Linked DNA regions of Homo sapiens. The protein of the gene in region 1 interacts with the protein of each later gene in a pairwise test. Each region holds a gene or a part of one and is shown on either strand. Other genes may lie near its edges.

Region 1 (3,653 bases):
TTGCAGATAACTGCTTCTGAGTCTGAAGAAAAGATGTGAATGTTGGCACAAGTGCTCTTTATTCTGCTTTCTAGAAGTTAGTATTTATTTAGTGATAGTGATTTAGATGGAAAATATTTTTTAATTTTGAAATCGGACTATATCATTTAGCTGTGTAAATCCAAGTCACAGAATATATCAGTAAAACTAAGAATTTGCTATGTGTACCTCACAAAGCATGGAAAATAATTACACCATGGTCCATCAATGTTGGTTCAATATATTCATCAATACTGCTATTGAGTTTTAAGGACTGGAAAATAGACAAACTTTACCATTGACAGTCAATCCATGTCAGTCTGAATATCACTGGAAAATAACAAAGGTATGCCAGTTTCCACAGTGTTATGAGGATAGTTTGTTACCCTGGGAAAGTGGAGTCTATACCAGCTTAGATTCAAAGAGGAAAGCAGGTCATAGACGAAAGTATAATTTGAAAAGAAAAAAGAATGGCTTCAGGTCCACTTAACCAAAACACTGAAACTTTAATTGAATGAGAATTACATCTGTCAAAGACCTGGGCAGTACACTCCTCTCTCCTCTCTATAGCACTCATTCCTTCTGAGGTGTCATTTCACCAGCCACCTGAGTAAGTGCTCCAGCTATCCCCAGACCAGCTAGAGACATCCCAAGCATGGTCATGTTAGCATCAATGTCCAGGCATACTCAGGGCTCAGAATCGTGGGTTAGTACCACTTTTCCCACTACCCCCTTATATTCCACAAGGGACTCACAGCCAGCAGGTTAACTCTCCCCTCCCTACCCCCACCAAACCCTGGAAAATCACAGACAGCCTTTTTACAGCTCCTCTTTCTCGGCCCCCTTCTTCTGGAAGGCAGTCAGGATGTTTAAGCTCTTCTGGAGCTCCTCCTTCTTCCCGTCACTCATCTTGTTCTTCTCAATCAGCCTGGCGATCCGTGTCATCTCTGATGCTGGGAAGTCCTCCCCTTGGTCTAAGATCTTCCCCATGATCTTCAGGTATTGCTCGGCCCACTTCTTCTGAGTCTCCTTCACACTTGAGAGGTTATCTTGCCCCTGCTTCAAGAGGGCCTGGCGGGCCTCCACACCAGAGGCCCTGATGAACTCCCCGGCCAGGGCGTCGTATACAGGCAGGCAACCAGGCATACCTAGGTAGACCCCTTGCCCCTTCAGCCAGCGCTGGATGGCTCCAACCTTAACTGCCCCAGTGTATGGGACTGGGTTCTCAAAGTCCCCATCCCGGAAGAGGTAGAAGACTGGGTAGCTCTCTTTGTCCAGCTTGTATTTCTCACTCAGCTCCATGTTCAGCTTGTCACCATAATCTGTGAGCAGAAACCAGACACAAAAAGCAAGACCATAAGGAACTCAGGGCAGAAAATTGCTATGGGACCTAGCTGAACTGAGGGAAAGAAGAATTTTCTTGGCCGTGTAATGGTTCAAAGTGAGGAGCAACCATACAGACCTGTGTTTGAATTCCTCCTCTGCCACTTCCTAGCCATGCAGCACTAGGCAAATCATTTAAACTCTCTGAACTGTTCTTCATCTGAAAAAATGGAGATTCTTCTGAATATTTATTATATGCCCACTATGTGTCAGATGCTGTTCTAGGTGCTGGGGGTCTACTTGTGATTAAGAGTATTAAGCTCGGACGGGTGCGGTGGCTCATGCCTGTAATCCCAGCACTTTGGGAGGCCGAGGCGGACAGATCACGAGGTCAGGAGTTCAAGACCAGCCTGGCCAACATAGTGAAACCGCTGTCTCTGCTAAAAATAACAAAAAAATTAGCAGGGCATGGTGGCGCGTGCCTGTAGTCCCAGCTACTCAAGAGGCTGAGGCAGAAGAATCGCTTGAACCCAGGAGGTGGAGGTTGCAGTGATCCGAGATCCCACCACCGCACTCCAGCTTGGGCAACAGAGTGAGACTTTGTCTCAAAAAAAAAAAAAAAAAAAAAAAAAAGACTATTAAGCTCATATTCTTCTAAGGGAGAGAAGAGACATAACAAACACATAAACACAGGTGATGAATGCCACAGGGAAAACAAAACAGCGCGATGTGACAAAGTGGGTAAGAAAGCCCACTTCAGGTGGTCAAGGCAGGCCTCCCTGTGAAGGTGACATCAGCTAAAGGACCTGAATGTCCTGGAGCAAGCTACGTGAAGATTTGGGAAGAGTGTCTCAGGCAGAAAGGACTGCAAGTGCAAAAGCTCTGAGGCAGGGCTAAGCTCAGGAAATTTCAGGATTACAAAGACCAGTCTGGCTGGAGCTGGGTGAGAAAGGGGAGCATGTGGTAGGGAAGGAACACAGTCCCTGCCACATGGGGGCTGTTGGGAGGACCGGATGAGGGAATATGTGCGTGATACTTGGCAGGGTTATATGCTTAATATGTGGTAGCTGCTGTTAGTATCTGCAACATCCTTCCTAACGAGCAGTAGCAGCCCCAAGGACTGATGCTGTGACAACTGGTTTCTTACACTTTGCCGAGAAACGGCTAAGACCAACTACTAGTAGTGGTAGTACTGGATGCCTAGGGTTCCAAACCTAGTTCTGCCACTTAACAATTCCACAATCTTGAGCAAGTTACTCTAAGCATCCATTTCTTCATTTGAAAAAATGGAGGTAATAGTACCACATGGGACTTCCTTCACAGAGCTCTTGCAAAGATGAAACACATGTAAAACACTCAGCACAGCGGCCTGGCACGCAGTAAACATCTGATAAATGTTAACTATTATTATTATTCTAATAAAAGCACCAAGGGAGTTACCTGAAGTTGAGTCAAATCTGACTGACTGTCCTGGAGAGGTGTGCCAGCTATCTCTACCCAGGACCAGACGCTCTACTAAGTTCCCAGCTTACTACGGAATGGAGGCATCCAAGCTGGGAGGGAAGTGAAATAAGTAAGCCCCTGCCTGGGACTAAACACTTAGGTGGAGCTCTGGATGAGCCACTCTATCACCCACAGTCCTTTAATCTTTGAGCTTCAGTTTTTTTTTTCCTGAAGTATAACATGGAGATAATACATCTTGCTTCTCAGGCAGAGTTCAAGTGAAGATTTAAAATGCAATGGGGGTGCAGATCTTTACCCTGTCAGCCACTAAATGCTGGTGACTATTAAAGCTGTCGCTGTGGTTGGGAGGTGCCCTTGGATTAGTGGTGGCATCAGTGCATTTGAGCTAACACCAAAACCTAACAGTTTTGGTACATAAACTGAAATGAAGACAGAAGAACTGACTATGCTGTCCCCTAGGGGACATAGCACCCCCTCTGCCCAGTGTTCCCTGCAAGGAGAGCTCAAAGTTCTCACAGTTTAATGTCAGAGAGGGGTGGAATGTGAAGGAAGAGGGGTTCCCTTCCCTTCAGGCACCTGTACAGCTGAGCTTAGATTCCATGGTCCCAAAATCTGCTCAGGTTAAGCCTACTGTGGGCAGCAGATTCCTTTAGAGACCATGAACCTGTTTACTTACACTCCTTGAGAGTGGCTCAGAAGGAAAGATGCTGGGTATTCCTGTTCCAAGTAGGGAAACGATTTCTAGCTTCCTCCCTCTCTGCCCCCCCAGCCGTCCTGGACTTGTCCATACCTGAGATCCCCACCTCTGCCACCAAGAGATCATCGCTGGAAGCCGAGTTTTCAGCAAG
Region 2 (3,280 bases), on another chromosome or scaffold:
GAATGGAGTTAATTCTGGGTAGATATGGGATTCAAGAGATTGGTCTTCATGAGGCATTTATCAAGGATCTGCAAGGGATTTAGAGGTGACGGAAGCACAGTCCTTCCTGGGCAGTTGCCTCTAGCCTGGTGGGAGGTGTTCCTCACACCCAGGACTCTCATCCATGGCAAAATAAAAAGTGAGATATCGACTGGGCATGGTGGCTCATGCCTGTAATCCCAGCACTTTGGGAGGTCGAGGCGGGTGGATCACCTAGGCCAGGAGTTCGAGACCAGCCTGGCCAACATGACGAAACCCCATTTCTACTAAAAATACAAAAATTAGCCATGTGTGGTGGAATGCACCTGAAGTCTCAGCTACTCGGGAGGCTGAGGCACAATAATTGCTTGGACCCAGGAGAAGGAGGCTGCAGTGAGCCGAGGTCGTGTCACTGTACTCCAGCCTGGGTGACAGAGTGAGACTCCATCTCAAAAAAAAAAAAAGTGGATATCACATCAGAGAAGCTCCTGGCCAGGTGGCCTTGAGGAACAGGGATGAGTTCGGCACTTAGAGATGGAGTTGGCTTTCCCCGTTGGAGGGAAAGGCATGAGAAGGGACATAGGTAAGAGGAAGTAGAGTAGTGCAGGGGCCATTGAGTAGTAGTCCTTCCAAGACAGGACGTCATCATAGAACCACTTTCTCTGAGGAAGCTCTGCTTGGGGGAGGTTTTAATTCATGAGGAAGGCAAATTCAATGGCTCTCAGGTGAGGTGGGAAACAGACACCTACCAACACTCCAAAGAGAACATGTACCTCTATAAAAGGGCACAGTCTAGTGAACAAAGTCCACAGCTCTGGGTTTGATTTCTAGCACTGTCACTTAATACTGTGTGACCTTAGACATTCACTTAACTCTCTCAGCCTCAGGATACAATCTGTAAAAACAGGAGAATGCTTGTTCCCTGTGCCTTATAGGATTGATATGAGCATCAGGAGAGACAGTGGGCACAAAATAGCACTGTCAACTACTTCTTTCTAGTCAGTTATCTGGTCATGTTTGTGAAGCTCCCCAGGACTGGGAACATAGCATATGATTTTTTTAAAGTTACTCGATGAATGAATGAATAAATGAATGAGTAAATGAATGAATAATATCTAAAGGCCTCCAACTAAATAATAATCAACTTCCTAACCGTACTGAAAGCCTTTAATTGACTTTGGGGCTGTTTGGCCTGGAGGAGGCTCTGAGTTAGTGGTGATCAGTTGGTGTCATGGTAGAGAAGAAAGCCTGTGAAGGTGGAGTCATTGTCATTATCAGCATAGAGTCCATTACGCTCTCCTTCCCCATACACCTGGAGCCAGACTTGGTCGCCCACCTCCAGATGCAGGAGCACAGAGCCGGAGGCCTGGTCCACATTATTTTCCTGGTACTGATCATAGGTGAAGAGCATAGCCTTGTCCTTCTTGAAGAGGCTGACCTTCACATCCTTCATATAGACTGTGATGTGGTAGGCAAAGTAGTACAGCCCAGGAATGTTGCAGTGGAATTTACCAGTGGAGCCATCATAGTGGTTTTGCTGATTGTAGAAGATCTTGGTAAAGCGAATGGGCATGTTGGGGATAGTAACGTAAGTCTCCAATCCCACACTGAATGCTGAGCGGTATACATAGGCACCTTCTCCAGGTTCTCCTTTCCTGCCTTGGATTCCCGGAAAGCCTCGGGGACCTTCAGCCCCGGGTACTCCGGTTTCACCGATGTCTCCCTTAGGACCAATAAGACCTAAGGAATGAGAAGACCTCAGTGACTACAAAGAACAGAACTCCTGCCTAGGTTGGTTACAGCCTAAATTACCATCCCTGTGGCTCCCACTCACAACCTTCTTGACTTATAGATCAAGAAACCAATAAGAGCTCCCAAAAGGAGAGAGGTGTTACCTCCTCCTTCTATATCTCCCACAGACATGGAGGCTCCCATAATTTCAACTCTATCTTTATCTCCTATAGGTCTCTATCATAGACCCTCCACCCTGCCAGCCCTTTATGTGCTGGCACCATCAACCCTGGTTTTGCAATTCTACCCCCTCCATCTAGGATGTCTCTCCTCCTCTATTCTGCCTACCCATCATTCAAGGCCTAGCTGAAGCTCTGCCTCCTCCTTGAAGCCTTCATTCTTCATCAGGTCCACGGTGAGTATATTTTCTCTATGCTCCATACTTTGAATACTTGTTCACATTCAGTTTGACATTTTTAGAGTAGACTTTCTTGTAGTAACCACCAACAGAGCCTTGCACATTAGACATCTTACCTAGATCAAGAGTTCCCCAAAGGCAGGACTGAGCCTTTCAGGGGGTGTGCAGTAAATGTGGTTGAATGCCACTGGGTGAAATGGAAGTTAAGCAGACAGAAAGAGGAATCAGAATATGAATGTACTGGGAATAGGGATGAGGGTGAAGATGGGAAAGGGGATGGAAAAGGAGCTGCAGATGCAGCAAAGCCAAAGTCTTGGTTATAGAGGCACCATCTACACTCATCCTTGGAAGACCAACCCCAAATCACTTCAGGTTGCTTATGGTTAACATAAAAAAGCTTTGCTTTCTCCCTGTGTCTAGGCCTTAGTTAATAATGAATGCCTTCATATAGTTTATATCAGTGTAGGAGGTCTGTGATGAAAGAGGCCAGAAACATTCTTACCTGGATCTCCTTTCTCACCCTTCTCACCAGGGGTGCCATCTCTGCCATCACGGCCTGGGGCCCCATTATGGCCCGGATGCCCTGGGATGCCCGCCATCCAACCTGTGCAGGCCCCCTTGGGCAGGGGAAGCAGGACTCCGGGCCCTTGAGTCGTGGTTTCCTGGTCATGACCGGGCAGAGCTAATAGCAGTAGAACAGCTCCCAGCAACAGCATCCTGAGCCCTGGAATCCACATGTGCACTGTCAGCCATGGAGAGACAGACCCCACACACACACCCAGTTGGGACCTACAAAGGACTCCGTCCATCTCAGCAGAGTCTACTTCTAGGAGCTGCTTTCTAAGTATTCAACTTTTCCAGGAAGACTTTTCTGAATATTGCAGCCCACCTTGATCTCTTTCTGCCCTGAAATCTGTAATACTTAGCATTATTCCCTGTGTGTAGTCTCCTTTCCTCACCAAGATTATGAATTCAGTGATTGCACAGATGACACTCCTCTAATTTTCCCATGTCTGAGCACAGGACCAAGCACAGGGAAAGCTCCAAGAGTCGACTTGCCAAGAATCCATCCTTGGGTTTCCCAAGTACGATGACACAGATTGCTCCATTCAA
Region 3 (3,653 bases), on another chromosome or scaffold:
TGCAAGGAAGACAATGTTGCTGTTCCTATTATGTTCAGTCTGTATTACCCTGTTCAAAAGATGAAAAATTCAGCTGTGAAAAAGCAATATGGCTATATCCTCTTGTAACCTCTACAGAGTTATATGAAATTCCCGTCATCGGAGTGACCCTGCCCATCATGTGGTTCTACCTCCTCATGAACATCATCACTCAGTATCCTTTGGACTGTGCCGTCACCCTTATGTCATCATCAGGTTCTTTTGGCACAGGAATGGTCATTCTTTTCTTCTAACAGTGTGTTGACTTGAATATGATTTTCGCTGGATTTATTCTGCGGTAAGCTGGAGACAGAGACCAATTCAGGGAACTCCTTGTAGAGGGCAGAAGAGATGCTAGTGGTGTAGTAGGTCAGTAAGGCACAGGGCAGCAGGAGGAAGTGCTCTGAGTGGAAGTGTAGGAGTCCATTGATTGATAGTGGCGGGTGTGGTGGCTCACGCCTGTAATCCCAGCACTTTAGGAGGCCGAGGCGGGCAGATCACTTGAGGTCAGGAGTTTGAGACCAGCCTGGCCAACATGGTGAAACCCCCTCTCTACAAAAATACAAAAGTAAGCCAGGCATGATGATGGGTGCCTATAATCCCAGCTACTCCATAGGCTGAGGCAGGAGAATCGCTTGAACCCAAGAGGTGGAGGTTGCAGTGAGCTGAGATCATGCCATTGCACTCCAGCCTGGACAACAGAGTGAGACTCCATCTCAAAAAACAAACAAAGAACTACTGTATAGCATAAATCATCTGTGATTTGTACCTGTGATTTTTTGGTGTCCTAAGATATTTCCAGTGATCACAAGCTGCTGCAAAGTCCTGAAAGAAATTTCAAATTACCAGCTACTTAGGAGGCTGAGGTGGGAGGATCGCTCAAGCCCAGGAGATCGAGGCTGCAGTGAGCTTGATCACTCCACTGCACTCTAGCTTGAGTAACAGAACAAGACCCTGTCTCAAAAAAAAAAAGAAATTTCAAAGTAATCAAGTTTTCGTTTTTTAAAATGGTTATTTCGAATGACCTTACTTTCATTATAAAAATAATTATGTCTTTGAAATAGTGAAACGAATCGAGATTGACCTCATTCCTCTGAAGTCAGCTCCTAGATTTGCCAGAGTCCCTTTCTGGAGGAGGGGATAGAAGGGCTGGAGGCAAGATAAATAAAGGTGAATGGGATCACCCTTACCGAGAGCGTCACCCTCTGTCATTATCTTGGAGGTGCCTGTCATTGTAACCATAGGAAGACTCCAACATAAGAATAATTGGGGGTTTTTTGGCGGTTTCAAATTGGTACCCATAAATGGAATGGCAGGACAGGAGTTGTTCTGCAGGTTCTCCCCAGGAGGAGCCTCAGAGCTGCCGTAGCGGACCTTCATGTTTTCTTAGAATATGAGAAGTTAAACCAGGGACCATGCCAGAAGGTTCTCTCACTGATCCCCCAAGTACAGTCTACAGAAAACTACCTTGACTCCACTCCTCCAGGTACGTGTGCATCCGGGGTGTGTTTATCCTCACCACAGAATGCGCCTCCCTCACCGTCACGCTCGTCGTGACCCTACGCAAATTTGTGAGCCTCATCTTTTCCATCTTGTACTTCCAGAACCCCTTCACCCTGTGGCACTGGCTGGGCACCTTGTTTGTCTTCATTGGGACCTTAATGTACACAGAGGTGTGGAACAACCTAGGGACCACAAAAAGTGAGCCTCAGAAGGACAGCAAGAAGAACTGAGGCCTGTCTGGAGTACGTAGACCAGTGTCGTCGTGAGGGTGGGACCCTGTGAAGGTCTGACCACCGTTTCGCTTTTGTTAATGCCGAGCTACCCGCAGTGCTGAGCCAGCCGTGCAAAAGGAAATCTTCAGGAGGGGACTTCTCACGTTGCTCAGACTGACACATGTAGACTAAATAGAAACCCCTCAGCCCTAAAATAGAAAAAAGAACAGTTCTGGACTATTGAACAGCCCATTCATTTATTTCTGTTTTGTTTACCGACATATTCAGTATTATTCTTGTTTTCTGAATTCTGAGTCTCCTGAACAAAAGGCTTACTATCCATGGTCTTGGAAAAGATTGTCCCTTCTCTTGCTGTTGTAATGCATCTCTGCTACAGCAGTCATTGTCATCCTGTGACCTTATCCCTTTTGTCTCCCATCACCTTTTCCTTCTTCAGCAGCACCTCACAGTCAGTCAGACGCTGCAGGCACCACTATCACCAGGAGTGGCCAAGTAAACCGAGACACCAGTAACAGCAGGGCTGGACTTCCTCCAGCGTTTTGGGAAGGAAAGAGATGTTCCCCTGAGCTGATTCCCAGTGACAGTGCAGCAAGACTAGTGGGACTCCTCTTTCCCACATTTTGCTTTTTTTTTTTTCTATGCAAAAGTCAGATGCTTCTATCCATTGCTTTCTGTGATTAGGGCGGCCCTGCAGCATATCTCACAGCAGACACAGTGTTCATAACAAAGAAAGGTTGTGCCGGGCACGGTGGCTCACACCTGTAATCCCAGCCCTTTGGGAGGCTGAGGTGGGTGTATCACTTGAGGTCAGGAGTTCAAGACCAATCTGGCCAACATGGTGAAACCCCATCTCTACTAAAAATACGAAAATTAGCTGGGTGTGATGGCGCATGCCTGTAATCCCAGCTACTTGGGAGGCTGAGGCAGGAGAATCACTTGAACCCGGGAGATGAAGGTTGCAGTGAGCTGAGGTCGTGCTACTGCACTCCCGCCTGGGTGACAGAGTGAGACTCTATCTCAAAAAAAAAAAAAAAAAAGAAAGGTTGTTATGGACTGGACACCCCTGAAGCCCATTGCCTAGGCCACAGTGGTGACGGCAGGATGGCCCTGCTCAGCACCGCAAGAGCCATGGCTGTCCCTGTTGGCCCAGCCGGGCACTCACAGGGCAGAAGGGTGGGTCTCAAGTGGGAGGATAAGGCTTCACCACCAGGAGATTCCCCTCTGCCCGATGACTCTGTTAAGAGTCACGACCCATCAAGGGAATGCATAGATGGAGATATATAGTGTGTGATGTGTAAATCAGGTCAAACCTCAACGACAATTGAAAGTTGTTATTGTCCTATGAGGTATCTTAGCATTCTCGATGGGTATTGAGGATGGTTGGATGTGCTTTATTGTGTGTGGAAACATGCCTCTCTTTGCTAATCATTTCAGAGGTCCAGTTTTCCTTTCACTGGACAATCTTGAATAGGAGGAACGCTGTTGCTGTAATATGCGTAGCTTCTGTGTGCTCTTGTGTAGTCTGTGTGTGATCAAAGGGCACGGAAGTGGCTGCACTTTCACATCCCTTTTCTTTACTTAGCTGGAACCTTACATACCAGTACATGCTCCTCTGTAAGCAGCTGAACTCACCGGCCACTTCTCTGTTTGCCTATAGACAAAGACTGTGTGTGTGTGTGTGTATGTATGTGTGTGTGTGTGGTGCACACATTGTGTTCTTAAACTGAGACGTGGCTCTGCAGGTCTCCTGGGCTCATTCCATGGTGTGGTATGTTTATTCCACTGTCCAGAGCTATTCTCTGATGGATTTGAGCAACAGCAGTGGAGATAAATGTCCTAGAGTCACCAGGTCGCTTGGAGAAGTCATTTAAGCTGCCTCGGGTTTTTGTTACTTAAAAT

Evidence for each region.
Region 2: the proteins of ERP29 (region 1) and ADIPOQ interact in binary tests that used the Homo sapiens proteins (3 or more experiments, as listed by UniProt).
Region 3: the proteins of ERP29 (region 1) and SLC35B4 interact in binary tests that used the Homo sapiens proteins (3 or more experiments, as listed by UniProt).

The regions. Positions count from the first base shown.
Region 1 is NC_000012.12:112,019,837-112,023,489, reverse strand, and holds the end of ERP29 (endoplasmic reticulum resident protein 29 isoform 1 precursor), read right to left. Parts: coding exon 3,596-3,653; exon of another isoform or gene 3,575-3,595; intron 2,915-3,574; exon of another isoform or gene 1,341-2,914; coding exon 838-1,340; 3' UTR 41-837; downstream 1-40. UniProt on the Homo sapiens protein: Does not seem to be a disulfide isomerase. Plays an important role in the processing of secretory proteins within the endoplasmic reticulum (ER), possibly by participating in the folding of proteins in the ER.
Region 2 is NC_000003.12:186,852,662-186,855,941, reverse strand, and holds part of ADIPOQ (adiponectin precursor), read right to left. Parts: exon of another isoform or gene 2,892-3,280; 5' UTR 2,884-2,891; coding exon 2,670-2,883; intron 2,165-2,669; exon of another isoform or gene 2,070-2,164; intron 1,810-2,069; exon of another isoform or gene 1,759-1,809; coding exon 1,238-1,758; 3' UTR 1-1,237. UniProt on the Homo sapiens protein: Important adipokine involved in the control of fat metabolism and insulin sensitivity, with direct anti-diabetic, anti-atherogenic and anti-inflammatory activities.
Region 3 is NC_000007.14:134,292,931-134,296,583, reverse strand, and holds part of SLC35B4 (nucleotide sugar transporter SLC35B4), read left to right. Parts: intron 1-117; coding exon 118-193; coding exon of another isoform or gene 194-272; exon of another isoform or gene 273-1,504; coding exon 1,505-1,751; 3' UTR 1,752-3,653. UniProt on the Homo sapiens protein: Antiporter that transports nucleotide sugars across the endoplasmic reticulum (ER) membrane in exchange for another nucleotide sugar.